7 linked regions of the Homo sapiens genome follow. The protein of the gene in region 1 purifies or fractionates together with the protein of each later gene. This does not show direct contact. Each region holds a gene or a part of one and is shown on either strand. Other genes may lie near its edges. The genes, in order: LGALS8, SLC12A6, KIAA1549, CSPG4, ITGA7, LRRC8E and SLC12A4.

Region 1 (3,500 bases):
AGAAATAGCCTTTCAGTGGTAGTAAGTTTAAAAAAGATGACTTCCTGAAGCGGAAGCTTGTGAGACATTTAAGATGACTTTGCGCATGTTAGAGTTAAAAACATCCCAAGGTTGTAAACTGATTTCCTGCAAAGATCTTAACAACAACAACAACAACAAACTAGGCTGCCTGCCACGGGTGTCTGAAGTATCATCTTGGCTCAAGCTGGGAGAATGGATAAAGGTTACACTGTTCATTTCTGCCCTTCACACAGAAAAGAAGATAATTTTATAGGTAAAATTCGTGCATATCTTGATTCTAGCATACTGCTGATTCCTGTAGTTTCTGGGGTCAGTACTCTCAACTATTGAGGTGGAACAAAAATAAGTAGACTTCATTTCTTGAGGAAGGGGATCTGGAGAAGTAGTTCTGCGCTAGAGCAGAAAATGCCTTCAGTCTTGTGGCATGGGCTGGATGCTGTTCTGAGGATAATGCATTTCCAAGGGAGATATTTTTGGCAAATAGCTTTTTTTTCTTTCTTTTCAAAATTCTCTGTTTTATTATCAGTTCTCACAAAAGAGTCGGAAAGGTTAGAGGTAGACTGAACTGAATGGCAAAAACATTTTGCGCTCTCTTTACGTTTCACTGCTGTAAAATATTTATAGTATAAAGGGCCTGTATTGCACTGAATTTCTCTCATTTGTAGCTAGTTGCCCTTTCAATGTTCCAAAAAAAAAGGCTGTAAATAACTTATTTTATTTATTCAATTAATTTTTTTTTTTTAATTTTTTGAGATATAGTTTCCCTCTGGTCACCCAGGCTGGAGTGAAATGATGCAATCTCGGCTTACTGCAATTTCTGCCTCCCGGGTTCAAGCAATTCTAGTGCCTCAGCCTCCTGAGTAGCTGGGACTGCAGGCACGTGCTACCATGCCCGGCTAATTTTTGTGTTTTTAGTAGATATGGGGTTTCACAGTGTTGGCCAGCCTAGTCTCAAACTCCTGACCTCAGGTGATGTGCCCACCTTGACCTCCAAAAGTGCTGGGATTACAGGCGTGAGGCACCATGCCTGGCCAACTTAGTTATTTAAAGATAATCAATTAGTATATTTTATAAGCTAGACTTAGGAAAACGGTTTTCAGCTGGGCATGGTGGCTCACACCTGTAATCCCAGCACTTTGGGAGGCCGAGGCAGGTGGATCACGAGGTCAGGAGTTCAAGACCAGCCTGGCCAAGATGGCGAAACTCCGTCTCTACTTAAAAATACAAAAATTAGCCAGGCGTGATGGCAGCCTCCTGTAATCCCAGCTACTCGGGAGGCTGAGGCAAGAGAATCACTTGAACCTGGGAGGCGGAGGTTGCAGTGAGCCGAGATGGTGCCACTGCACTCCAGCCTGGGTGACAGAGCGAGACTCCATCTCAAAAAAAAAAAAACCCCCCCACACACAAAACCTGTTTTCTTGAATCATGGTTGTTTTGTTACTGATAGGTTCAATAAGTAAATATATTTATTGTCTGTTGTATTCTTTATTAGGCATTATAAACACACCGCCACTTTTTAATTTTTATTTCATTAATGTTTCCAATTTTTTTTTTTTTTTTTTTTTTTAAGACAGAGGCTCGCTCTGTCATCCAGGCTGGAGTGGAGTGGTGCAGTCTTACCCCACTGCAACCTCCACCTCCTGGGCTCAGCCTTGTAAATAGCTGGGACTACAGGCATGCACCACCATGCCTGGCTAATTTTTGTATTTTTTTTGGTAAAGACAGAGTTTTGCCATGTTTCTCAGTCTGGTCAAGCACTCCTCCCGCCTCGGCCTCCCAAAGTGTTGGGATTACAGGCATGAGCCACCATGCCTGGCCTATTTCTAATATTTTGGTCCACATTGGTGTTAGACCAACTGTCCACATTAAGTTTTCTTGGAAAAGATGAAGTAAATATTGCAACTGGCCTATGTATTTTTTTCCCTATTTAGTATATTTCTTTGACTAGTTCAACTGATAGAATTCCAAGACTTAAAAAAGTCAGGCTCTAAGGCTGGGTCCAGAGGCTCATGCCTGTAATTCCAGCACTGTGGGAGGCCAAGGCTAGTGGATCACTTGAGCCCAGGAGTTCAAGACCAGCTTGAGCAACATAGTGAGACCTTGTCTCTCTATAAAAATACAAAAATTAACTGGGGATTGTGGCGCATGTCTGTAGTCCCAGCTATGAGGAAGAGTGAGGTGGGAGGATTGCTTGAGCCCAGGAGGTTGAGGCTGCAGTGAGCTGTGAGTTTGACACTGTGCTTCATTCTGGGTGACAGAGCAAGAACCATGTTCAAAAATAAAAATAAAAAGTCAGAGTCCGGGTGCTGCGGCTCATGCCTGTAATCCCAGCACTTTGGGAAGCCGAGGCGAGAGGATCACTTGAGGTCAGGAGTTCGAGACCAGCCTGACTAACACAGTGAAACCCCGTCTCTACTAAAAATACAAAAATTAGCCGGGCATGGTGGCGGTGGCCTGTAATCCCAGCTACATGGGAGGTTGAGGCAGGAGAATCACTTGAACCCGGGAGGTGGAGGTTGTAATGAGCCAAGATTGCACAACTGCACTGCATCCTGGGCGACAGAGTGATACTTCATCTCAAAAAAAAAAAAAGAAAAAAAAAGTTAGGCTTCCTTTTCTGTTTTTTTTTTTTTTTCTTTCTTCTCTTTTTTTTTTTTTTTTTAAGAGATGGAGGCTTGCTCTATTGCCCATGCTGGAGTGCAGTGGTGCAATCTCGGCTCACTGCCACCTTTGCCTCCTGGGTTCTAGCAATTCTCCTGCCTCAGCCTCCCGAGTAGCTGGGACTACAGGCGCACACCGCCACGCCCCGCTAATTGTTCTTTTGTATTTTAGTAGAGACGGGGTTTCACCATGTTGGCCAGCCTGGTCTCGAACTCCTGAGCTCAGGCAATCCGCCCGCCTCGGCCTCCCAAAGTGCTAGGATTATAGGCGTGAACCACCGTGGCTGGCCACTTACTTTTCTTTCTATTGAATTTGAATGAATAATTTGGAAGACAGTATCTTTACTTCATACCAGGAATGCTGCCAGTGAAATTTCTTGTTTGGCAGTTCATTATCTACCTATATATTTAATTTTGCTATTGTTTATAGAGTTCTTAAGATATGATTAAATGCTAGCTGGTTAAGAAATCATTTAGAAATGAAACAGAATTGGTTGTTACTCCAAGTTAATAAGTTGCTTGTCAACATAAATCCTACCTGGTACCCAGTTTTCTTAGGAACCTTGCTTCCATGTTTATCCTTTTCTGCTTAGTATTCTAAGTACTCCTTTTTTACCTTACAATTTAGTCTTAAAACACAACACAGTCAAGTCTTTCTTTTGTAACCTGTGAGATACCTTCTAGCCTTTGTGCTGTTTTTCTTCTCTTTTTGCTGCCTGCCTTCCTGACTGAGAGTGGATTTCCTCACTAAGGCTCTGCCCTCTGATTTTTCACTCTCTTTTCTTTTTTGGTTTTACTAGTGAAATTTTGTCTTTAATG
Region 2 (3,500 bases), on another chromosome or scaffold:
TGATACTGATAGCAAAGAGTAGAAGCAAATCTAGGAACCCTGAGAATTCTGCCTCCTGAGAAAAATCACTCCGTGGGTCTGACAGCTTCTAAAATATACAACAGCCTATGTGTTTACCTGTAACAGAGGGAAAGAAGATTCCCACCAGAAGCGTGAAGGAGGTGGTGATGTCAACAAGAACATATTCATGGTTTAAGCTGCCTAAGACATCAGAAGATTTGGCTGAAGGCTTTTCGATGATCTCTCCCTTGGGTAGGTAATTACTCCAAAGATTCTCTGCAGTGGGAAAAATGGGAATTTAAGCAGCAGCAGTATGAAAAAAAAAAGATAATTAATTTTCTACCCAAACATTCAAAATCAGGCTCCTCATTTATACAGTTTCTAAAGGTGTGTTTGCTTCTACATGAGCACATGTATACACACACATTGCACAATAAAACACACATAAATAAAAACATAGTTTTTTTTTTGTTTGTTTGTTTTTTGAGACAGAGTTTTACTCTGTCACCAGGCTGGAGTGCAGTGGCACAATCTTGGCTCACTGCAAGCTCTGCCTCCCAGGTTCACGCCATTCTCCTGCCTCAGCATCCTGAGTAGCTGGGACTACAGGCGCCTGCCACCACGCCCAGCTAATTTTTTATATTTTTAGTAGAGACGAGGTTTCACCATGTTAGCCAGGATGGTCTCGATCTCCTGACCTCATGATCCTCCCACCTAGGCCTCCCAAAGTGCTAGGATTACAGGCATAACCCACGGCGCCCAGCTAAACATAATGTTCTTTCTTATCTAATTTAAATATAATTTGACAAAATGATTTGGTACATGCAAATATAGTTTAACTTTACTAATGCAAATTAGTAAAAGTTAAACAGACTAAAACTAAATGCCCCACAAATCCCATTATTATTTGTCATCAGTGCTGTTTCTAACACCTTAATGTAAACTTACTTATGTGCAAAGAAATTTATAGACCAAACATTTATAATAGAAGACACTTAAGGAATGTTTCAGGAATTTAGCTAAGTTAGGAAGATACATGTGGATGTGGACATTAAAACAGGTCTATTCTGTCAGTGCAGGAAGAACATTGGCAATTTTACAAGAATACACGGAATATTTTACCGTAAGGTTAGAAAGTGATTTGCTCAACTCTGCTCTGAAATGGAGGTGAATTTTAGCAGACATCACTCTGTAAAGGAGTACTGAATAAGGACAGCTTTACTAATGGAAAAGCAGAAATATGGTGAATTAAGAGCTGTGTGGTGTGCTTAAGAAGGGAATTAGCACCATGGCAGTGAATCTTTATGGACAGTAGAGGAATCTAAGATGACAAGGCCTATTTTCCCCAGAAAATAGGAAAAAACTTGTCCAATAACTCCCTAACTTACCTGTAATTATACCACTAGCCAATCCAGGAATGCCCTGGATTGAAGTGACGTTATTGTGAACAAAGTATTCATCACAGGTGGCATTGAAAAATTGACTCGAGTTACAGAAGAATCCCCATAACTTTGATGGGACTGTCATGTTGTTAATTTCCTTGGTCTTAGAGCAAACGTCAATGTGTCTTGATGAAAGGGTGCGGTTACCCAGCATGCAGACCCTAAGTGAAAAGAAATAGGGAGAAAGATCAAGTAAGGAAAAAAAGTACATTAAAAAAAAAGGAAACAGGTTAGTAAAGGAAACAAGAACCCCATCTTTAAGAGCTTCTACTGTTATGGGTGGGAAAGGAACTAATGTTTATTTATTTATAATTTATTTTAACACTGTGAATGGTGACTTACATTTTCTGCCAATTTAATACTTACAGCAACCTCACAATGTATTAGAATTTCTATGTTGTGGATGGAGGCACTGAAGTTTAGGAAGACAGGGAGTTAATTGAAGGTTAGGGAAATACAGTTATCTGTCCAAGGTCATAGGTGGTGGCAGTGAAGGAAGTCAAATTGAAGAACTGTCTGAAGACATTATGCTGACTCATCTTCCAAAATTTTTGGCTAAAATTGTTAGGTCTAAAAGAATACTGAAGTCCTTTTGTTGTTCTTATAAAGTAAAAAGCACTCCTCTTTTTTTGGCCTAGAAAAGCCTAACATTCATAACAAACACCTTGAAAATGTTATGCTAAAGGTTGAATCTTCTGGCTACTGTTGCAAGGAAAACAGCTTGGTCAGAATTAAAAGGCAGATCCCTCTATGGCCTAAGAGAAAACTGTTTTTGAATTTAAGCCTAGACTCAGTGGGAGTGACGGTAAGGATAACATAAATATTAACCTGCTGGTTTTACTTTTTTCTTTAACCCAGAGACACAAATATAAACAAAGGAATAATACATCCATAGTTAAAATACCTCTCAGGTCCAACAAAGGGACTTCTAAAATTTGCAAAATGATTGAATACATTATTATGAACCATGTACCTATTACTCAGCTTCAACAACTCTCAACATTTCCCAGTCTTGTTTCATGTATTATTCTAGATTTTTTGTCTTGTTTTGCTGGAATATCTCAAAGAAAATACCATGCATTATGACCGTGTACTAATCAAAAAAGAGGAGAAGCCCCAAAGGTGAACCTGAGACAAAATGGAATTTCCCAAATTGAGATATAACCAGAATGTCACCTTTAGAAATTTTATGCCCCTAAAAAGGACCTTCAGCTGTATTACAGTCCCTAGATAAGCAGATTAAAAGTTTAAGATGGAATCTACTTCTGCCATCATGCAGCATAGCATAGAAGAAATACTGAATGGGGAGTCAGGAAATCACAGTTCATCTTCTTGCTCTGCCATTAATTAACTTTGAGGTAAGTCATTAAACCTACTGGAACTGTCTTTTTGTCTTGAAAAATCTTTTTTTCTGTAATCTGGTTAAATCAACATAGAACCGATGAGTTTGATCCTCAGATAATCCAGATGACTCTTCAAGATAATTCTGTAACAAGACTACAAATAACACTGAGTGCCAGCTAGTCCCTATGCCACTAGTCAAAGGGAAAAGTGAGCCTGTGAGTCACAGATGTGCACAAATCCATTACTACTTCAAAAAACATACTTTAAAGTATTCGCACTAGGGAGTTGAAGGAGGTGGTGAATGATGAGAGAGTACTTAATGGGTACAAAGTACATTATTTGGGTAATGGATAAAAGCCCTGACCTAGGCTGGGCGCAGTGGCTCACGCCTGTAATCCCAGCACGTCGGGAGGCCAAGGTGGGCCTTATAAAGGTTGCTGGCAATAACTACACTGTCTGCAAAGCCCTTTATGAATAGTTCAAAATGTGTATAATAAAAAAAGATTATGTACAATTATCAGGGAGAAAAAAATCTAATATCTGAACCTAAATGATGGTTACAGCTACTAGTTCTATGCTTAGGACATAAGAAAGAGGATGAACGGGACATAGTTTGCTGGTAGGCTTCCTGCCTAGATGAGGAAGGAAGTCTAACTGGGCTTATCTGAGAGGGAAAATCTCAGAGAGACTCTATGAAATTCTGACTTAAAATTA
Region 3 (3,500 bases), on another chromosome or scaffold:
TACATAGCTCCAGAGTTAGTCCAGGCTGACTTAGCCTTCAATGTTCCAACAATACCTATTCCCAGAAGGCTAGAACAGAAGGCACTTTACCTCTTAGCCCAGTGCTTCCCAAACCTCAATTGTGCATGCAAAATCACCAGGGGGATCTTGTCAAATGCAGATTCTGATTCAGAAGGTCGGGGGTGGGCCCTGAGATTCTGCATTTTCTAACAAGCTACGAGGCAGTGGAGGCAGTGATGATGCGAGCTAAGAGGCAGTGATGATGCTCAGAGTGTGGGGACCACAAGATTAGAATTTCACTAATGAGAAGTAATTGCCTGAAGCTAACAAAGGAGATGGAAAAAAGAAAGAGACAAAGAGAAAGAATAAGAGAAAGCAAAGTATGGGTCTTGAGTGTGTGGATGCAAGAGGGAAGAATAAAGGGAGTTTTTAAAAAGAAGAGCCATCTGCAATGGTGAGAGTGAGCTGCCTTCAGCAGGTCATGGGCCTAGAACATCTACCAGGCAAGGAGAAATGACAAAACAACCTAACAGAAAAAGGACAGATGCTGCTTATAAGTGCATTCCAAGACATCCAAGATGTTGACTTGATATGTAGGAGCTACAGGGAGAAATGAGCTACAAGGAGCTAGAGGGTTAATGAGATTAGCGCTAATCTCATTAACCCTTTCTTACACCGAGGAGGAAACCCAGGACAAGGTAACTTGTCCATAGTCACAAAGTTACAGGCAGATTTGCATTTGCACACACCCAGGTTTTTTAACTCACCTTTTAACAAATCCTGCTGCCTAACAACAAGAAAAAGAAATCACATCATTGTGAGCTCCAGATGAAAGGTGGGTGGTCACAACTTGAAAACAAATTAGATCAGTTAGAACAGTGTCTTCCTATCTGGGAAAATCAACCTAGTGTAATTATAATGACGGTAATTAGCTGCCTCTATCATTCAGGGCACTGATAGAAAACCTGTGGCTCCCACGTCCCTAGTGACTTGTAACAACTCCCTGGCTGGGTTCTGTTTTCAGAATTAAGTGAGGCACTTCCTGACAAGCACTGCAGCAGCTGTTCCCAAACGGGCAGGAGTGAGCATTGAAAATGCAGTCCTCTGCACCCTTTCACTCCCAACCCAAACAAAACCAAGCAAAAACATGTAACAAAAAATGCTTATTTTATTTTACCTTATCTTATTTTATCTTATTTTATTTTGAGATGGAGTCTTGCTCTGTCACCCAGGCTGGAGTGCAGTGGCGCGATCTCATTTCATTGCAACCTCTGCCTCCCGGGTTCAAGCAATTCTCCTGCCTCACCCTCCCAAGTAGCTGGGATTACAGGCACCTGCCACCACACCCGGCTAATTTCTGTATTTTTAGTAGAGACCGGGTTTCACCATGTTGGCCAGGCTGGTCTCCAACTCCTGACCTCAGGTGATCCCAAAGTGTTGGGATTACAGGCGTGAGTCACCGCGCCCGGCCTCAACATAACGATTTTAAATTAGCTGTTCTAACAGTGAAAAGACAACTGCAAGATACCAATGGTATACAGTAGTCCCCCTCCTCCAAGGTTTCGGATACCGGAGGACAACTGCAGTTTGAAGATATTTTGAGATATTCTGAGGTATTTTGAGATACAGCATATTCACGTTTTATTACAGTAGACTGTTAGAACTGTTCTGTTTTGTTATTATTGTTAATCTCTTACTGTGCCTCATTTTTTAATTAAACTTTATTGCAGGTATGTACATATAGGAAAAAACCATGGTATATACAGACTTCAGTACTACCCAAAGTTTCAGGCATCCACTGGGGGTCTTGGACCACATCCCTTGCAGATAAGGAGGGACTACTATATCTTCAAAATACTGTTAATTTTCAGTTACTGGGTTTACCATATCCGGATCAGTGGTTCCAATGCTCAGGGGCTAAAACGGAGCTGTCAACTTGTTAAAATGAAGATTCCCAGGCACTGCCACCAAAGAGTCTAATTTAGAGGCTAAGGGTGAGTCGTAGACATCTAAATTCTTAACAAGCACCCCCACATCCCCAAATGATGTTGATGCAGGAGGCCTAGGGGCCACACTTTTGAAACATTTAAGTATTTGTTTATAATATCCTAAACGACTCACAAAGCATAAATATTCACCTAGAAATGGCCAATAATAAAACAGCACATTAAGAAAAAAATTTCACACACCATAAGCATAAATGCAATAAAAAAATTATTAAAAGAACAAATGGCAGATCTTGCTAATCAAAACAACCAAAAACTTCTACATTTCAAAATTATGTAAAATTTAAAAGAAATTCCTTTGGAAGGGGAAAACGCAACATATAGAAGGAAAAATGGTTGCTATCCTTCTAATACATAAAGATTTAAATACATATCTATGCCACAACAGGTAAATAAATAAAAATACAGAGAAAATTCACAGAATACAAATACAAAATAAAAAATATTCAATTCTAAAGCAATAAAACCGTGCAGGTTAAAACAATGTATTACAAATTTATTTAACAAGGGCTTTTAAAGTAACATTCAATGCCAGTGATGAAGTGAATACTCAATGCAAGTGATAATGGAAGGCCCCTGCGTAAGCTTCAAGGGCTTATGTCAGCATTATAACTTTCAAAAATTGCTTCATTCAAAAATCACATACTGAGTACCTACTAGGGGCCCAGCATTTTGAACAAAAGATGCAGAAATCCAGCCTGGTGGGCCTTACATTTTAATCACACTCTAATACCCCTTCCACAAATGTATACTCAAGAAAACACACACACACACACACACACACACACACGGAAAGAAACATGCACAAAGCCTTTTTTTTTTGAGACGGAGTCTTGCTCTGTCGTCCAGGCTGGAGTACAATGGCGCCATCTCGGCTCACTGCAACCTCTGCCTCCCTGGTTCGAGCAATTCTCCTGCCTCAGCCTCCCAAGTAGCTGGGATTACAGGCACATGCCACCACACCCAGCTAATCTCTGTATTTTTAGTAGAGACGGGGTTTCACCATGTTGGCCAGGATGGTCTCAAACTCCTGACCTCAGGTGATCCGCCCACCTCGGCTTCCCAAAGTGCTGGGATTACAGGCGTGAGCCAGCGCGCATGGCCAGCAGAGCCTTCTCTATGTAGCTATTCATCAGCATTACTTACAGCAACCCAAAAAATGGAAATAAAAGAATAAATCATTAGGATAGAAAATAGTTTTCAAATAAGACTTAATGAATGGAAAAATGCTTAAGTTAAATGTAGAGTGGAAATGGTAGTAAATACAATTGTGCATATAATTCTTTTTTTAATGTTAACAACAAAAAAACGATAAAATTACTTAGTGTTACCTACAGGCTGTGAGATTATGGGTGACTGGTTTCTGTACCTTTCAGTAATTTCCAAATTCCCTACAAAGCAATCTATTTCATAATAACTATTACTTTTTAAAAACTTATCTCTGAATAAGGTGAAGAAACTGGGCATGATTCTTTGTTTTTATACTGTGGATGG
Region 4 (3,500 bases), on another chromosome or scaffold:
TGTCTCCGGGCCCTACTTCCCCACTCTCCTGGGCCTCAGCCTGCAGGTGCTGGAGCCACCCCAGCATGGAGCCCTGCAGAAGGAGGACGGACCTCAAGCCAGGACCCTCAGCGCCTTCTCCTGGAGAATGGTATGGCTGTGAGAGAGGCCCAGGGGCTGCAGCCCAGCTCTGGGGGCAGAGTGGAGGGAGCCCTGGGGACTCCCAGTCTGGGGGTTATACACAGAGAGGAGACGGGGAGTCACATTTCAGAAGCACCTATGCTTTAAATACCATATATCTTTTCTTCCTCACAACTCCTCGGAGCCAGAACTTATGGTCCCCATTTTCTACCAATGGAAAATGAAGCCCTAAAAGAGTCAGTCTCCTCCTGCACCCAAAGGCAGGGCATGAAGGGTGCTGCTGGGGCCTGACTGCCAGCCCTGGGCCTGCCCCTAGGTGGAAGAGCAGCTGATCCGCTACGTGCATGACGGGAGCGAGACACTGACAGACAGTTTTGTCCTGATGGCTAATGCCTCCGAGATGGATCGCCAGAGCCATCCTGTGGCCTTCACTGTCACTGTCCTGCCTGTCAATGACCAACCCCCCATCCTCACTACAAACACAGGCCTGCAGGTGAGAGCATCCCTGGGAACACCCCCATGTCTGCTTCGAGAAAGAGGCCAGCGTCCCCTACTTCGCGGCTCAGAGCTCCCCCAGCTCTGATCCTCAGTTTCCTCCTCTGCAAAATGGGGACGCTGCCACATGCCTCACGGGGTTGTTGGAAGGAGAGAAGTGAGATTGTGCTGAAATAGAACACAGGTGGGAAGTTTTTTTATTGGATGTTTGCAAGTATGGTAGGCAGACTTCTGAGCGGCCACGGGTGGCTCTGCTGTTCCTTCTTCTGTGGCTAAGGACCAGAACATCTGACAGAATCACTTACAAGCCCTTAAGGGCAGGCATCAGGGCGGAAGCTGTTAAGTTTCCCACCTTCACCCAGCAAGTGAAGGCCATGGCTTGGCTCCCCAAACTCCTGCACAAGGCTGTTCCACGCCCAGCAGGACAGTGCAGGGAAGGCCCTGGTGAACTTCGCTCAGGCAGAGGTAAGGGCCCCACTCTGCAGGTGGAAGTTGAGGCCCAGACGTGGGATGGAACTTCTCCATGGTTGCAAAAGTAGTTCTGGTGGAACAGAAAGGGCATGGCTTTACAAAGCCCACATGGCAGGGCTTTGAACCCCAGCTTCTGGGGTGCATCCTCCCCGGTCAGCAGGAGCCACTGAAGTTTCCATAAAGGGCTGACTTGGGCTGTCTCTGGCATGGGGTGCCTGGGGCGGGGGTGGGGGCGGGGCCTTGGTGGTCTAGGATGTGCCCGTAGCGGGTGGCCTGGTGGTGCGGAAGCCGCCAAAGAGTGGGACACAGTGCTCTGGAACCACAGGCCAGGACGGCTGTGTGGCAGCACAGCCACCAGGTGGTGCCATCTACCTGTGTTTGCTCCAGAAGCCTAGTGCTGGGGTCCTGCCCCGCAACATTATGGCCCCTCCTGCCAGGGCTGGGCCTGAGGGCTCCCTGGGGCCGGGGGAGGAAGCCCAGGAATGCCAGAAGGCTCTGTTTTCCGGGCATGTGAGTCCCACTGCAGCTCTGCCCGCAAGTAATTGACCCAGCAAGACTGGTACCAGGACCTCAGGAACAGGCACCTGCTCTGCTTGCAAGTGGGAGGCCTGAAAAAGGGGTCCCCTTTGCCCAACATAAGGAGGGCCCCTAACTGCTCTGGAAGCACCTGGGCCCATCCCACGCTGATTCTGTGCTGCAGAACAGTGCCAACCATCAGCCCCCCACTCTCTGCGCCACGCACCCCTCCCTCAGCTGGAAGGAGGGCCCATTTCTAAAATCACCATTCCCACCTGTGCCCGGCCCCGGCCAGGCACACACGGAGGCTCTGAAAGGAGACCCCTGTCCCACCAGTGAGACAGATTAGGGAGCACTGTTGGTCAGCGCTGGGGGTTTCTGGGAGTGAGAACTTGGTGAGGGTAAGAGCTGGGGCCTTCCTGGGTAGGGGACATAAGCTGGCCTTGAGGGACACACAGGACTAGGGCAGATGGAGAGCAGGGAGGCTGGGCCTGGAGGGTGACCTTCCCTGGGGCCTTCCCTGGGGTGACAGGGAAGGTGAATGCGGGAGGCCCTTTGTGCAGGGGAGCCAGAGTGGCGCCAGCCTCGATGCCACCCGAGGGGCTGAGCCGCAGCAGGACTGGAGCCCTGGTGGCAGCCCAGGGCCGGGGAGGAAGGGGTGGGTGAGTGCGGCAAGGCAGAACCTTCACAGGCCTGTGTTCCCAGATGTGGGAGGGGGCCACTGCGCCCATCCCTGCGGAGGCTCTGAGGAGCACGGACGGCGACTCTGGGTCTGAGGATCTGGTCTACACCATCGAGCAGCCCAGCAACGGGCGGGTAGTGCTGCGGGGGGCGCCGGGCACTGAGGTGCGCAGCTTCACGCAGGCCCAGCTGGACGGCGGGCTCGTGCTGTTCTCACACAGAGGTGGGTGCTGAGGGCCGGGCCTCGGGTTCCTGCTGCCCACGGGGGTGCCCTGAGATGGGGAGCCGGCTCGGGCCAGCTGGACCCAATGCCCCTGTCCCCAGGAACCCTGGATGGAGGCTTCCGCTTCCGCCTCTCTGACGGCGAGCACACTTCCCCCGGACACTTCTTCCGAGTGACGGCCCAGAAGCAAGTGCTCCTCTCGCTGAAGGGCAGCCAGACACTGACTGTCTGCCCAGGTGGGTGTGCTGATCATGGGCATTCCTGGGTGCCAGGAGCTGGGGCGGAGCTGAGGGTGGCATGCCAGGGTCACGCTGCCTCTTTGCAAACACAGGCCTGGACCTGGCTCCCAGTCAAAATCTGATATCCCCTTTTGCCTCTGGCAGGGTCCGTCCAGCCACTCAGCAGTCAGACCCTCAGGGCCAGCTCCAGCGCAGGCACTGACCCCCAGCTCCTGCTCTACCGTGTGGTGCGGGGCCCCCAGCTAGGCCGGCTGTTCCACGCCCAGCAGGACAGCACAGGGGAGGCCCTGGTGAACTTCACTCAGGCAGAGGTAAGGGCCCAACTTTGCAGCCACCACTCAGATGCCCCCAGCCTCAGGTGGCCGCTGTGCCATGGACATCATGTGGACATGGATGCCAGCTCCAGCATCACTGGCAGCAGACGTTCCCGGGCCTGCCATTGTCCAGGCGCTAGTGTCCTGTCCTCCAGGAGCCGCCAGGCTGGCAGGGCAAGTTCATGTTCCCAGAAGGAGGGAGAAGGATGCAGAAAGTCGGGGATACAGGGCCCTAGAGCAGGGCTGGGGTCTTGGGGTATAGCTTCCAGAAGGAAGCTACAGCCGGACCCGAGGGTCTGGAGAGGGGGCACCATGTGGGGGCACTAGTGGTACCCCAGTAGCTGATGAGGGGCAGTGCTTGGTGGGGGATGGAGTTGGACGTGAAGCAGCGGCTGGGCCTGTGGGCAGAGGTGTGAGCCTGGGGCTCAGGTCAAGTGCCAG
Region 5 (3,419 bases), on another chromosome or scaffold:
GCACTCATTTGCTCCTTCCCCAGCCTCCAATTAGAACAAGCCACCCACCAGCCTATCTATCTTCCACTGAGAGGGACCTAGCAGAATGAGAGAAGACATTCATGTACCACCTACTAGTCCCTCTCTCCCCAACCTCTGCCAGGGCAATCTCTAACTTCAATCCCGCCTTCGACAGTGAAAAAGCTCTACTTCTACGCTGACCCAGGGAGGAAACACTAGGACCCTGTTGTATCCTCAACTGCAAGTTTCTGGACTAGTCTCCCAACGTTTGCCTCCCAATGTTGTCCCTTTCCTTCGTTCCCATGGTAAAGCTCCTCTCGCTTTCCTCCTGAGGCTACACCCATGCGTCTCTAGGAACTGGTCACAAAAGTCATGGTGCCTGCATCCCTGCCAAGCCCCCCTGACCCTCTCTCCCCACTACCACCTTCTTCCTGAGCTGGGGGCACCAGGGAGAATCAGAGATGCTGGGGATGCCAGAGCAAGACTCAAAGAGGCAGAGGTTTTGTTCTCAAATATTTTTTAATAAATAGACGAAACCACGAAACCACTAGACTGATGGCAGCAAACTAAGGTCAGATGAGAGGGGAAACTAGAGAAGGAGCAGCCTGAGTCAGTGACACAACCTCCTCCCCGACCCTCTAGGTTAAGGCACTTCCGGGGAGGCAGGTCCTTGGGGTCCTGTTACACAGGGTGAATGGGAGAGGAAGGGATTAGGATCCCTTCTCCCCACCTTTGCATCAGGACACCCCTGCCCTTCTCACCCTACCCCATGGCCCTGTCCCTGATTTACCCACTCTCATCTCACAGCACTCTAAGGGGAAGTTGGGTGGGAGGAGTTCTTGTGGGTGGGAGAGGTCTGTGCCCCTGAGGAAGCCGATCCTGCCAAATCTTGATGCGACACCAGCAGCCCACTCTACCCTCTTCATCCCAAGGAGCCATCTCTGGGGAAGGGATGGAGGGCAGCCACAGGCCAGGCTGGGACATGGGAACCTAGGCGGTGCCTGGCCCTGGATGCCCATCGGGGCCCAGCTCGGGATGCCCGTCAGCAGCCAGGATGGGGTGTGCATCCGGGCCCTCCCGCCGGGGGCTGCCCCAGTTGTTCCTCAGGATGGTGCCCGTCTTCTCCTCCTTGAACTGCTGTCGGTCTTCCCGAGGAATCTTCACCGCATGGTACTGGGGCACGGTGGCCTCGGGGTGCTTCGCCCGTTTGAAGAATCCCATCTATAAGGACACCAGGCCAGACCATGAGGAGCCTGAAGAGCTGCGGTCCCTGGAGCAGATGCCTAGCGCGGCACAGCTCCTCACCCTCACCATCCCTGCTGCGGCAGAAAGGAAATAGGCTGAATAGCATCTGGTGTGGTGGGCAGCACCCACGGTGCTCCCATCAGTGCTGTGTCCCCAGGTTCTCATTCACAGCAAGAGAGAGACCAGAAGGGCGTCCAAGAGGCAGGACCAAGGGTATCTCCCTTGGCCCCTGAAAGAGGGCCTTGAGGGTGGAGCATCAGGACCGGACTCAAGATTTGTACCCCCTCTAGCTTCTTAAGAGACCCAATAGTGTCCCCCAGAACACAAACAAGACCTGAGGAAGAAAATGGCTTCCTAGTCCCCTGCATCTCTGGAATGATACCTCTCAAGCCTCATAAACATGCACCCCGTGTACTTGTACCTTGGGCGGCACGCCCCTTACAGCAATACCCTCTTGTCCATCAATACAGTAGTCTAGCCCCACCCTAAATGAGGACCATGCTGGCCCTTACACACCAGGGTGGGAATGTGCCCCTGCACACTCACACTCAGAGGCCCAGGACTCCTACATGCTCAGACTGCATGGCATCTCCTTACACATTCATCTCCTTGCACACTCATGCCCATAGAAAAAAGCATGCATGCGACCTCCCCACACTCCCACATGCTCACACCCCATGAGCCCACCAACCCTTTGTGCACGCCTCAGGCTGTGTAGACTTACCCTTATATCTGCACCCTTCTAATTACCTCTCACCTCACATCACTCTCATGCAATCTCATTTTTCACCCTGAACATTCCTGATCCCCTGAATGCTGGGAATTCTCCTTATATTCACACACATACATACCCACACACACTAGACACATGCACACACACAACAGTTACCCCACAGTCCCTGGACCCCCAACTTCCATGGCTGAAGGCTGCACAGCCAGACAGGCCCGGTGATAGTTGGTGGGAAAAGATGAGCTCTGGCTGCTCCGATGGAAGAAGCCACACTAGGATGTCGAGGGAGAAGCAGGGCAGAGGAAGCAGAGGATGGAAAGATTGAGGAAGGACAGGATCCCCTATCTCTGCTCTGTCTTCCTTCCATGGGAGCAGGGAGCAAGCATCCTGGGACCAGTTTCACAGAGGCATCAATCTCCCCTAAGACTGGGAAGGTTCCCAACAGCTTGGATGCCACTCCAGAGCCTGGTCTACTGATGATTCACACTTGCCAAAGGGTGGCTCAGTCTCTGATTGGTCCCAAAGAGCAGGCACAGGCAGGGGCAGTTCTCCAGAGCCCCAAGGACATGTGTGGTTCTGAACATAGCCCCCGATGTGGCAGATGGCTCAGCATATGACCCCGGTGATGTATGTGATTCCGTGTACTGACGTGTGCATGTGCATACTTTTACATTGAGCCCTGGATACCAGTATGATTCGGTATACAGCTCTGGGTGTACAAGAATGCTTCCATGCAGAGCCTGGTATGTGGAAGCTCTGAGTTCCGCCATGAGGGCAGTCCCCTGGAGGCCGTTCTCCGTGCTTGTTGGCCTTCTTGGCCACATTTACCTTTCCAGTTTTCACTGCCACATTCTAGTTAAGTCAGATCACACTTCTCTGCCTCCACGACTTTGCCTACCATGGTCCTGCTGGACCCCACCTACCTCATCCCCTTACATCCTCACCCTACTACCCCACCTTCCTCTGAGGACTGGTTCCAGTGCTACCTCCTCTCAAGCTTTTTTCCCTCTAAACTCCCACTCCATTTTCTCAACTCAACACTTCCTGCCTTGTCCTTGACTACAGGCTCACCACTCCCATCCCACTGGACTATAAAATCCCTGAGAACGAGATCTGCATCTGATTTCTTTTTTTTTTTTTTTTTTTTTTTTTTGAGACAGAGTCCTGCTCAGTCCCCCAGGTTGCAGTGCAGTGGCGCAATCTTGGCTCACTGCAACCTCCACCTCCCGGGTTCAAGCGATTCTCCTGTCTCAGCCTCCCAAGTAGCTGGGATTACAGGCACCCCCCACCATGCCCAGCTAATTTTTTTTATTTGTTTGTATTTTTAACAGAGACAGGATTTCACCATGTTGGCCAGCTTGGTCTTGAACTCCTGACCTCAGGTGATCCACTCACCTCAGCCTCCCAAAGTGCTGGGATTACAGGCATGAGCCACCATGCCCGG
Region 6 (3,500 bases), on another chromosome or scaffold:
GCCAAGCTGAAGGCTAGTCAGCCCTGGGGGTAGGAGGTGACCAGGACACCTGAGTTTCTAAAGGGGCTACAGCCCAGAATCACAGGCAGAAACCAGAGACCTGGGCTCTGAGAGGGGGCAATGGGGTGTCCGGATGTCCGAGGAGGAAGGAGGATTTGCAAATGGAAAGTTGTCAGGTGACATCTGCGACCAGGCTAGGGCTGTGCTGTCAGGCTCCTGGCCGGCCCACTCTGTCTGTTCCCAGGGTCTCCTTTTAGACCAAGCTATCACTATTACAGATACAGACAGGCCAGCCACAAATCACACTGGGGCGTGGGGCATGAGCTGAGATGTCACTCTCCCAGGCAGGTACCTACTTCCCCAGAGGCTGGAGGTGGAACAAGGAAGGTGGGGAACCTTAGACCAGCCCACTTCTGCCAACATCCAAGTTCCCCCACTCCTGGGAGCCTCCTGTCCTTGTCCAGATAGATAATCTGTAACTGGGGCTGGGCGCGGTGGCTCATGCCTGTAATCCCAGCACTATGGGAAGCTGAGGCAGGTGGATCACTTGAGGTTAGGAGTTCGAGACCAGTGAGGCCAACATGGTGAAACCCAGAGTCTACTAAAAATACACAAAAAATTAACCAGGTGTGGTGACACACACCTGTAATCCTAGCTACTCTGGAGGCTGAGGTGGGAGGGTCTTGATCCGGGGAGGCAGAGGTGGCAGTGAAGTGAGACCGTGCCACTGCACTCCAGCCTGGGTGACAGAGTGAGACTCCATCTCAAACAAACAAAACAAAAGACAAAGATAATCTGTAACGGGACAGGAGTTGGGCCAAGAAGGAGGGCATCTGCCCATCAGGGAGTTATCTCTGGCTCCCCATCCATCTCCCCAGGAAGAATCTAGGGAAACCCTGGTCCCCTGACCCACGACTCAGCCAATGGTTCTGACATGTCTGAGCCTCCCTTTTCAGTTTGTGTCCCCCCCATATTTTGGGGTGACTCCTGGGTTAAAACAAGGTAGGATACAGGCTCCACCCACCAAGCTAAAGGCCAAGCAGTCCCGAAAGACCACATCCTTTTACCCCCTCAGAGGCCCCCACTTCAGTCTGGGGAATCAGATAGGCAGGCAAGGGTGTGGGTACAGCCTGCCCACACGGGGACTCACCATGCAAGTGTAAAATGTCATAGGTTGGGCCAGGCGCAGTGGCTCACGTCTGTAATCCCAGCACTTTGGGAGGCCAAGGCAGGCGGATCACAAGGTCAGGAGTTCGAAACCAGCCTGGCCAGCATGGTGAAACCCCGTCTCTTCTAAAAATACAAAAATTAGCCGGGCATGGTGGCATGAACCTGTAGTCCCAGCTAGGCAGGAGAATCGCTTGAACCCGGGAAGCGGAGGTTGTGGTGAGCTGAGATCGTGCCACTGCAATCTAGCCTGGGAGACGGAGCGAGACTCTGTCTCGGGAAAAAAAAAAAAAAAAGTCATGGGTTCCCTGACTCAGGCAGTGACTCACCCAGACCCAGATCCATGCAAGGGGGTGCCCAGAGCACAGGGTCCTTCGCACCATGGCCTGGCCCTCATGCTCATTCACACTCCCTGCCCTAAGCAAAAAGCCAAGTATACTTTGGGAGGCCGAGGTGGGCAGATCACTTGAGGTTAGGAGTTCGAGACCAGCCTGGCCAACATGGTGAAACTCCGTCTCTATTAAAAATACAAAAATTAGCCAGGTGCGGTGGCTCACGCCTGTAATCCCAGCACTTTGGGAGGCCGAGGCAGGCAAATCACAAGGTCAGGAGTTAGGGACCAGCCTGGCCAACGTGATGAAACCCCGTCTCTACTAAAAATACAAAAAATTAGCTGGGCGTGGTGGCAGGTGCCTGTAATCCCAGCTACTAGGGAGGCTGAGGCAGGAGGATCGCTTGAACCTGGGAGGCAGAGGTTGCAGTGAGCTGAGATTGCGCCACTGCACTCTAGCCCAGACAATAGTGCAAGACTCTGTCTCAAAACTAAAACAAAATAAAAATAAAAATACAAAACAGCCAGTCATGGTGGAGGGTGCCTGTAGTCCCGGTTACTCGGGAGGCTGAGGCACGAAAACCCCTTGAACCCGGGAGGCGGAGGTTGCAGTCAGCCAAGATTGCACTACTGCATTCCAGCCTGGGCGACAGAGCAAGACCCTGTCTCTAAAAAAGAGAAGAGAAGAGAAAAGAAACCCGACTACAAATATCCCAGTCTGCCTGGGTCACCAGTATGTAATCTGGTAGAAACATACCAGGATAGCTCAACTGTCCCCAGGGGAAGAATATGTACATTGCACCCACCAAAATGGACGCTTGGGGTCATTTTGGGTCATGCATATTTGTGCACGAGGGTATAAAGTCCAAGTACACACACTGAGCTTCGGAGGGACCCAGCACCAGGGACCCTCACGTCCTGTTTTGGTTCCGGCCATCCATTGAGTCCTCCAAGGATCCTGCAGGGACACTGCTCAGTTGCTTTACCTAAGAATGCTGACCCCAGGCTGGGTGCAGTGGCTCAGGCCTGTAATTCCAGCACTTTGGGAGGCTGAGGCAGGAGGATTGCTTGAGCCCAGGAGTTTGAGCAGCCAGGACAACATAGTCAGACCCCATTTCTACAAAAAAATCTAAAAATTTGGGCCGGGTGCGGTGGCTCACGCCTGTAATCCCAGCACTTTGGGAGGCCGAGGTGGGTGGATCACGAGGTCAGGAGATTGAGACCATCCTGGCTAATGCGGCGAAACCCCGTCTCTACTAAAAATACAAAAAATTAGCCGGGCATAGTGGCAGACGCCTGTAGTCCCAGCTACTTGGGAGGCTGAGGCAGGAGAATGGCGTGAACCTGGGAGGCAGAGCCTGCAGTGAGCCAAGATTGCACAACTGTACTCCAGCCTGGGCGACAGAGCGAGACTCCGTCTCAAAAAAAAAAAAAAAATCTAAAATCTTGCCAGGTGTGGTGGTGCATGCCTGTAGTCCCAGCTACTTGGAAGACTGAGGTGGGAGGATTGCTTGAACCCAGGAGTTAGAGGCTGCAGTGAGCCATGAACCAGCCTGGGCAAGACCCTATCTCAAACACAGCAAGCAAAACACTACTGACTGGGGCCGGGCGCGGTGGCTCTCGCCTGTAATCCCAGCACTTTGGGAGGCCAAGGTAGGCGGATAATTTGAGGTCAGGAGTTCCAGACCAGCCTGGCCAACATGGTGAAACCTCGTCTCTACTAAAAATACAAAAACAATTAGCCAGGCATGGTGGTGGATGCCTGTAATCCCAGCTACTCAGGAGAGTGAGGCAGGAGAATTGCTTAAACTCGGGAGACAGAAGCTGCAGTGAGCCAAGATCTCGCCACTGCACTCCAGCCTGGGCGACAGAGCGAGACTCCGTCTCAAAAAAACAAAACAAAACAAAAACTCCTGACTCTGGAGGCTGCAGAAGAAATCACACAACACACACACACACACACAAACACACACACACACACACACACCCGAGCAGGGACCAA
Region 7 (3,500 bases), on another chromosome or scaffold:
AGAGGGCAAAAGAGTGATGTCTGGGACAAGTGAAGTCTCCCTTGTCTGCCCAAACCCTGATCTCCCTGGATGGTCTTCCCCTGACCCCAGTCCTGCAAGTACCCACATCAATCGCGGAGATGGGATCCTGATCCTCCAGCCCATCCTCAGGCGGGGCTGGGCCAAGGCCTTCACCGCAGAACCTTGCTGCTTTCCCAGGTCAGGAGGCCTCCCAGAGCTCAGGTCCCCCAGCCCCACCGGGGTCTAGGCGATGATCCCTGCTCCTGCAGCCTTCTCGAGGCTGTGCTTCTACCTGCCTCCTGCCCACATTTAGCTTTTCCCTCTCTGTCAGCTCCTTTCTGACCTACACACAGGGAGAAGTTGCTTTGGTGTGAGAAAGGAAGACGAGGGCCCTTGGGGGCATGTGGAGATTAAGGAGCCTCGGCCAGATGTGGTGGCTCACAGCAGTAATTCCAGCACTTTGAGAGGCTGAGCAGGAGGATCACTAGAAGTCAGGAGTTCAAGACCAGCCTGGCCAACACGGTGAAACCCCGTCTCTAAAAACACAAAAATTAGCCAGGCATGTGGTGGGCACCTGTAATCCCAGCTACTCGGGAGGCTGAGGCAGGAGAATCGCTGAGCTTGGAAGGCAGAGGTTGCAATGAGCTGAGATCGCGTCACTGCACTCCAGCCTGGGGCGACAGAGTGAGACTCCATCTCAAAATGAAGAAAGAGAAAAAAAAGGCAGATTAAGGAGTCTCCATTACTCAGCCATGCAGTGGCTGAATGCATGGGTCAGAGTTTAGGAGCTTAAACTACGTCTTAAATCCAGATCTCACTGCTCAGCTTGAGTCTGAAGAAGATAAAACTCAAGTACAGAGGCAGATATTTGGGAATCTTTCCAGAGACGTATCCCCTAAAGCTGCAAATGGACCAGGACTCAGGGAACTAGAGAGGGACAGAGCTGGAAGGGTCAACCAAGAAAGACAAGGAAGAATCCATGGGAGAGCGAAGAACCATGGACTTGGAGAAGAACCAGGAGTGGAAGGAAGAGGAGAAATCCTGAGTTGGGAAATCCTAAGCGGGCGTTTCCTTGCTGAGGGGTTGTAAGGAAGTCAGAGGTGAACCACCCTGGAGGTAGCAATGGGGGTGGGATTGTGAGTGGCCTCTGGAAAGGCAGTTTCAGTTGAAAGGGCCAAGGGAACTGCAGCCCGGCTGCCATGAGAACCAGGAACACAAGAGGAGATGAGAGGAAGAGCAAGACAGAGGAGGCCCACGTGTCCAGCCTGCCTGCTTAGCTAAAGCCTCTGTGTGCCAAACCTGTGGCCCAAAATGGCTCCTCAGCTACCTCAAACAGTGCCAGGTTCCTGTCATAGTAGTCAATTCCTCTGGAAGCCTCCAAGGGGGAAAGAAAAGGGCTGCTCTCTCTGTGGTTGCCATGTCCTGTGAAGAGAGAGGGACAATCAGGGCCTGCTTCCTGAGCCCCCCAGCCTGGGCCCCTTCCCAGAAAGCCAGTCCCCAAATCATTTCTGTGGAGCACTTTGGAGCTGCAGTGTCACCAGGTTGCAACTCAGTTTTCACATGGCACCGTGCCAATGCTCTTGAAGGCCCAGGGATAGCCAGAGAGAGGCCAGTGACCAAAACCTGGGACATCATTCCCTCCAGTGAAGGGAATCCAGGTGAGGGCGCAGGCGCCCTAGCACAAGCACGTATGGACACTGAGGGACGGGGCCTGCAGAGGGGCGGGGCCAGCGTTTGACCCGCCCCCAGATCGCCTCCACGCCCCAGTCCCTTTCCCGGTCTTTCCGGAGTACCCAATGTGCAGGATGCCAAGGGTTCGGTGTCCTCAGGGACCGCCCAGGCAGTGCCCTCCAGATAGACGAAGCCGCACACAGCACCTTCGGCTGCCATGGCCCAAAGGTGGCCGGCTGGCTACCCCACCATGCACTGCGCGGGGGGCGTCCTGCAGGGCAGCCCGGGGCATGCCGGGAGGTGGGGCAAGCCCCAGGCCGTGGAGAGCGGAAGTGGATTCCAGGAGCCTTCTAGGGTTGCCTAAGAAAGTCGGACGGGTGGGTGTCGGACTGAGCAGGGAGAAAAATGGGAGCTGGGACTGCTGGCAGGAGCAACACAATGGCCCCCTTGCCCGCAGATCCCGCCGCTTGCCCCAGGCAAACCTCCGCCTACAGCCCTAGGCTGATGAGCCAGTGCCCCAGCTCTGAGAAATCTCGCCAAAAGGAGTGAAATGCTCCTTTTCAATAAGCCTGCCTCAACTCCCAAAGCTCGACTGTTTTTTCTGGCCTCCTATCATTCATTCTTCCCTGTTTTCCAACTCTTGTCCCTTATGAGTCTCGGTGGGTGCCATTCCCAGCTTCCCACCAAGCAGAACGCCAAGCACTCGTTTTCTAGGTGCTGAGTGTTCCCTCCACCCCAGCTACCCTCGCAGCCCCGGCCCTGGCTCAAGGCCTCACAGCAAATGGAAAGCACACATCTTGGTGTTGGATGGCAGCAGTATGTAGTTCTGACATGAGAAGGACTGGCATGGTGTCCAGTGATGGAGATGGCAACAGAACTGTCACCACCAGCCCAGGCTAGTGGTGTGATTGGGCCATGCACTGGCCATGCCCGCCAACCTTTTCTGTTTACATAGGCCACAATTCATTTTTCTTGACTGCAGCTGAGAATGCTGATTGAGGCATCCTCCTGTATCTGATACATCTCTTGCTATCAGCATGAGGCTTCAATTGCTTTCTCTGAGCCAACAACCACTCAGCAGGTGCTGTGCTGTGGATTCTTTATCCCCCAAGGAAACTAACAAATCAAGTGTGCCCATGACAGTTTCTGGGGCAAAGTCAGTTCTTCCTTCCCACAGCATGTGAAAGTGGCACACCTGCTACACCCAGCAACCTGGACTAGCTAAGTGAGCCAAGCAGCTCAGCCCCACATTCACATAGGTCAATGCCAATGGCACAGTGGACAAAGGCAGCCAGAGGTCAAGACAGTCCACCGTGTCATGTTAAAGCCAGGCGGGGTCATGTCGGACACTCTATGATATCTGCTGTACCCTCCATGCTTGTTCAGGATCAGAAGGAGTCCCAAGAAAAATCTGAAAACCCAGTAACACTCTGCCTCTTACATTAATGACATTAATGGCTCTTCAGTGAAAAGCCTTTGAAAATTACTTTTGGATTTTTGTGACAAAAAAAGTGTCTCCCTTTGATAAATCAGGTGCTTCATTTTGTCAGAAAATGCCAGTTATACAGCTCGTCTTACTTCTCTTTCTGCTTTGGCTGCCAGGAATCTCCAAGCTAAATTTACTCTTTAGATAAAGTCACCATCTGTCTCACCTGAGTGCTTGCCCCCTTCCTCTGCATGGTTTTCAATCTTCCTGAGAGTAACAATCACTTGGGGAGACACTTTTGTTGGCTATTTCTTCTGATTCTTTTGTGGAAGTAGGCTGGAAATCAATTATAATTTATTCTAAACTCATGTACTACAGCCTGCCCCATCACTGTTGCCTGGTC

Evidence for each region.
Region 2: the proteins of LGALS8 (region 1) and SLC12A6 purify together in Homo sapiens (affinity purification with mass spectrometry; 4 studies listed by BioGRID and IntAct, with this or other methods). This does not show direct contact.
Region 3: the proteins of LGALS8 (region 1) and KIAA1549 purify together in Homo sapiens (affinity purification with mass spectrometry; 3 studies listed by BioGRID and IntAct, with this or other methods). This does not show direct contact.
Region 4: the proteins of LGALS8 (region 1) and CSPG4 purify together in Homo sapiens (affinity purification with mass spectrometry; 3 studies listed by BioGRID and IntAct, with this or other methods). This does not show direct contact.
Region 5: the proteins of LGALS8 (region 1) and ITGA7 purify together in Homo sapiens (affinity purification with mass spectrometry; 3 studies listed by BioGRID and IntAct, with this or other methods). This does not show direct contact.
Region 6: the proteins of LGALS8 (region 1) and LRRC8E purify together in Homo sapiens (affinity purification with mass spectrometry; 3 studies listed by BioGRID and IntAct, with this or other methods). This does not show direct contact.
Region 7: the proteins of LGALS8 (region 1) and SLC12A4 purify together in Homo sapiens (affinity purification with mass spectrometry; 3 studies listed by BioGRID and IntAct, with this or other methods). This does not show direct contact.

Annotation. Positions count from the first base shown.
Region 1 is NC_000001.11:236,526,982-236,530,481, forward strand, and holds part of LGALS8 (galectin-8), read left to right. Parts: intron 1-3,500.
Region 2 is NC_000015.10:34,250,782-34,254,281, forward strand, and holds part of SLC12A6 (solute carrier family 12 member 6), read right to left. Parts: intron 1,604-3,500; coding exon 1,389-1,603; intron 277-1,388; coding exon 118-276; intron 1-117.
Region 3 is NC_000007.14:138,974,890-138,978,389, forward strand, and holds part of KIAA1549 (UPF0606 protein KIAA1549), read right to left. Parts: intron 1-3,500. UniProt on the Homo sapiens protein: May play a role in photoreceptor function.
Region 4 is NC_000015.10:75,681,849-75,685,348, reverse strand, and holds part of CSPG4 (chondroitin sulfate proteoglycan 4 precursor), read left to right. Parts: coding exon 1-130; intron 131-436; coding exon 437-613; intron 614-2,307; coding exon 2,308-2,506; intron 2,507-2,607; coding exon 2,608-2,742; intron 2,743-2,889; coding exon 2,890-3,056; intron 3,057-3,500. UniProt on the Homo sapiens protein: Proteoglycan playing a role in cell proliferation and migration which stimulates endothelial cells motility during microvascular morphogenesis. May also inhibit neurite outgrowth and growth cone collapse during axon regeneration.
Region 5 is NC_000012.12:55,684,068-55,687,486, forward strand, and holds the end of ITGA7 (integrin alpha-7 isoform 2 precursor), read right to left. Parts: intron 2,248-3,419; coding exon of another isoform or gene 2,135-2,247; intron 1,222-2,134; coding exon 991-1,221; 3' UTR 501-990; downstream 1-500. UniProt on the Homo sapiens protein: Integrin alpha-7/beta-1 is the primary laminin receptor on skeletal myoblasts and adult myofibers.
Region 6 is NC_000019.10:7,891,510-7,895,009, reverse strand, and holds part of LRRC8E (volume-regulated anion channel subunit LRRC8E), read right to left. Parts: intron 1,438-3,500; exon of another isoform or gene 1,151-1,437; intron 491-1,150; exon of another isoform or gene 1-490. UniProt on the Homo sapiens protein: Non-essential component of the volume-regulated anion channel (VRAC, also named VSOAC channel), an anion channel required to maintain a constant cell volume in response to extracellular or intracellular osmotic changes.
Region 7 is NC_000016.10:67,962,138-67,965,637, forward strand, and holds part of SLC12A4 (solute carrier family 12 member 4), read right to left. Parts: intron 1,916-3,500; exon of another isoform or gene 1,891-1,915; coding exon of another isoform or gene 1,794-1,890; intron 1,423-1,793; coding exon 1,328-1,422; intron 1-1,327. UniProt on the Homo sapiens protein: Mediates electroneutral potassium-chloride cotransport when activated by cell swelling. May contribute to cell volume homeostasis in single cells. May be involved in the regulation of basolateral Cl(-) exit in NaCl absorbing epithelia.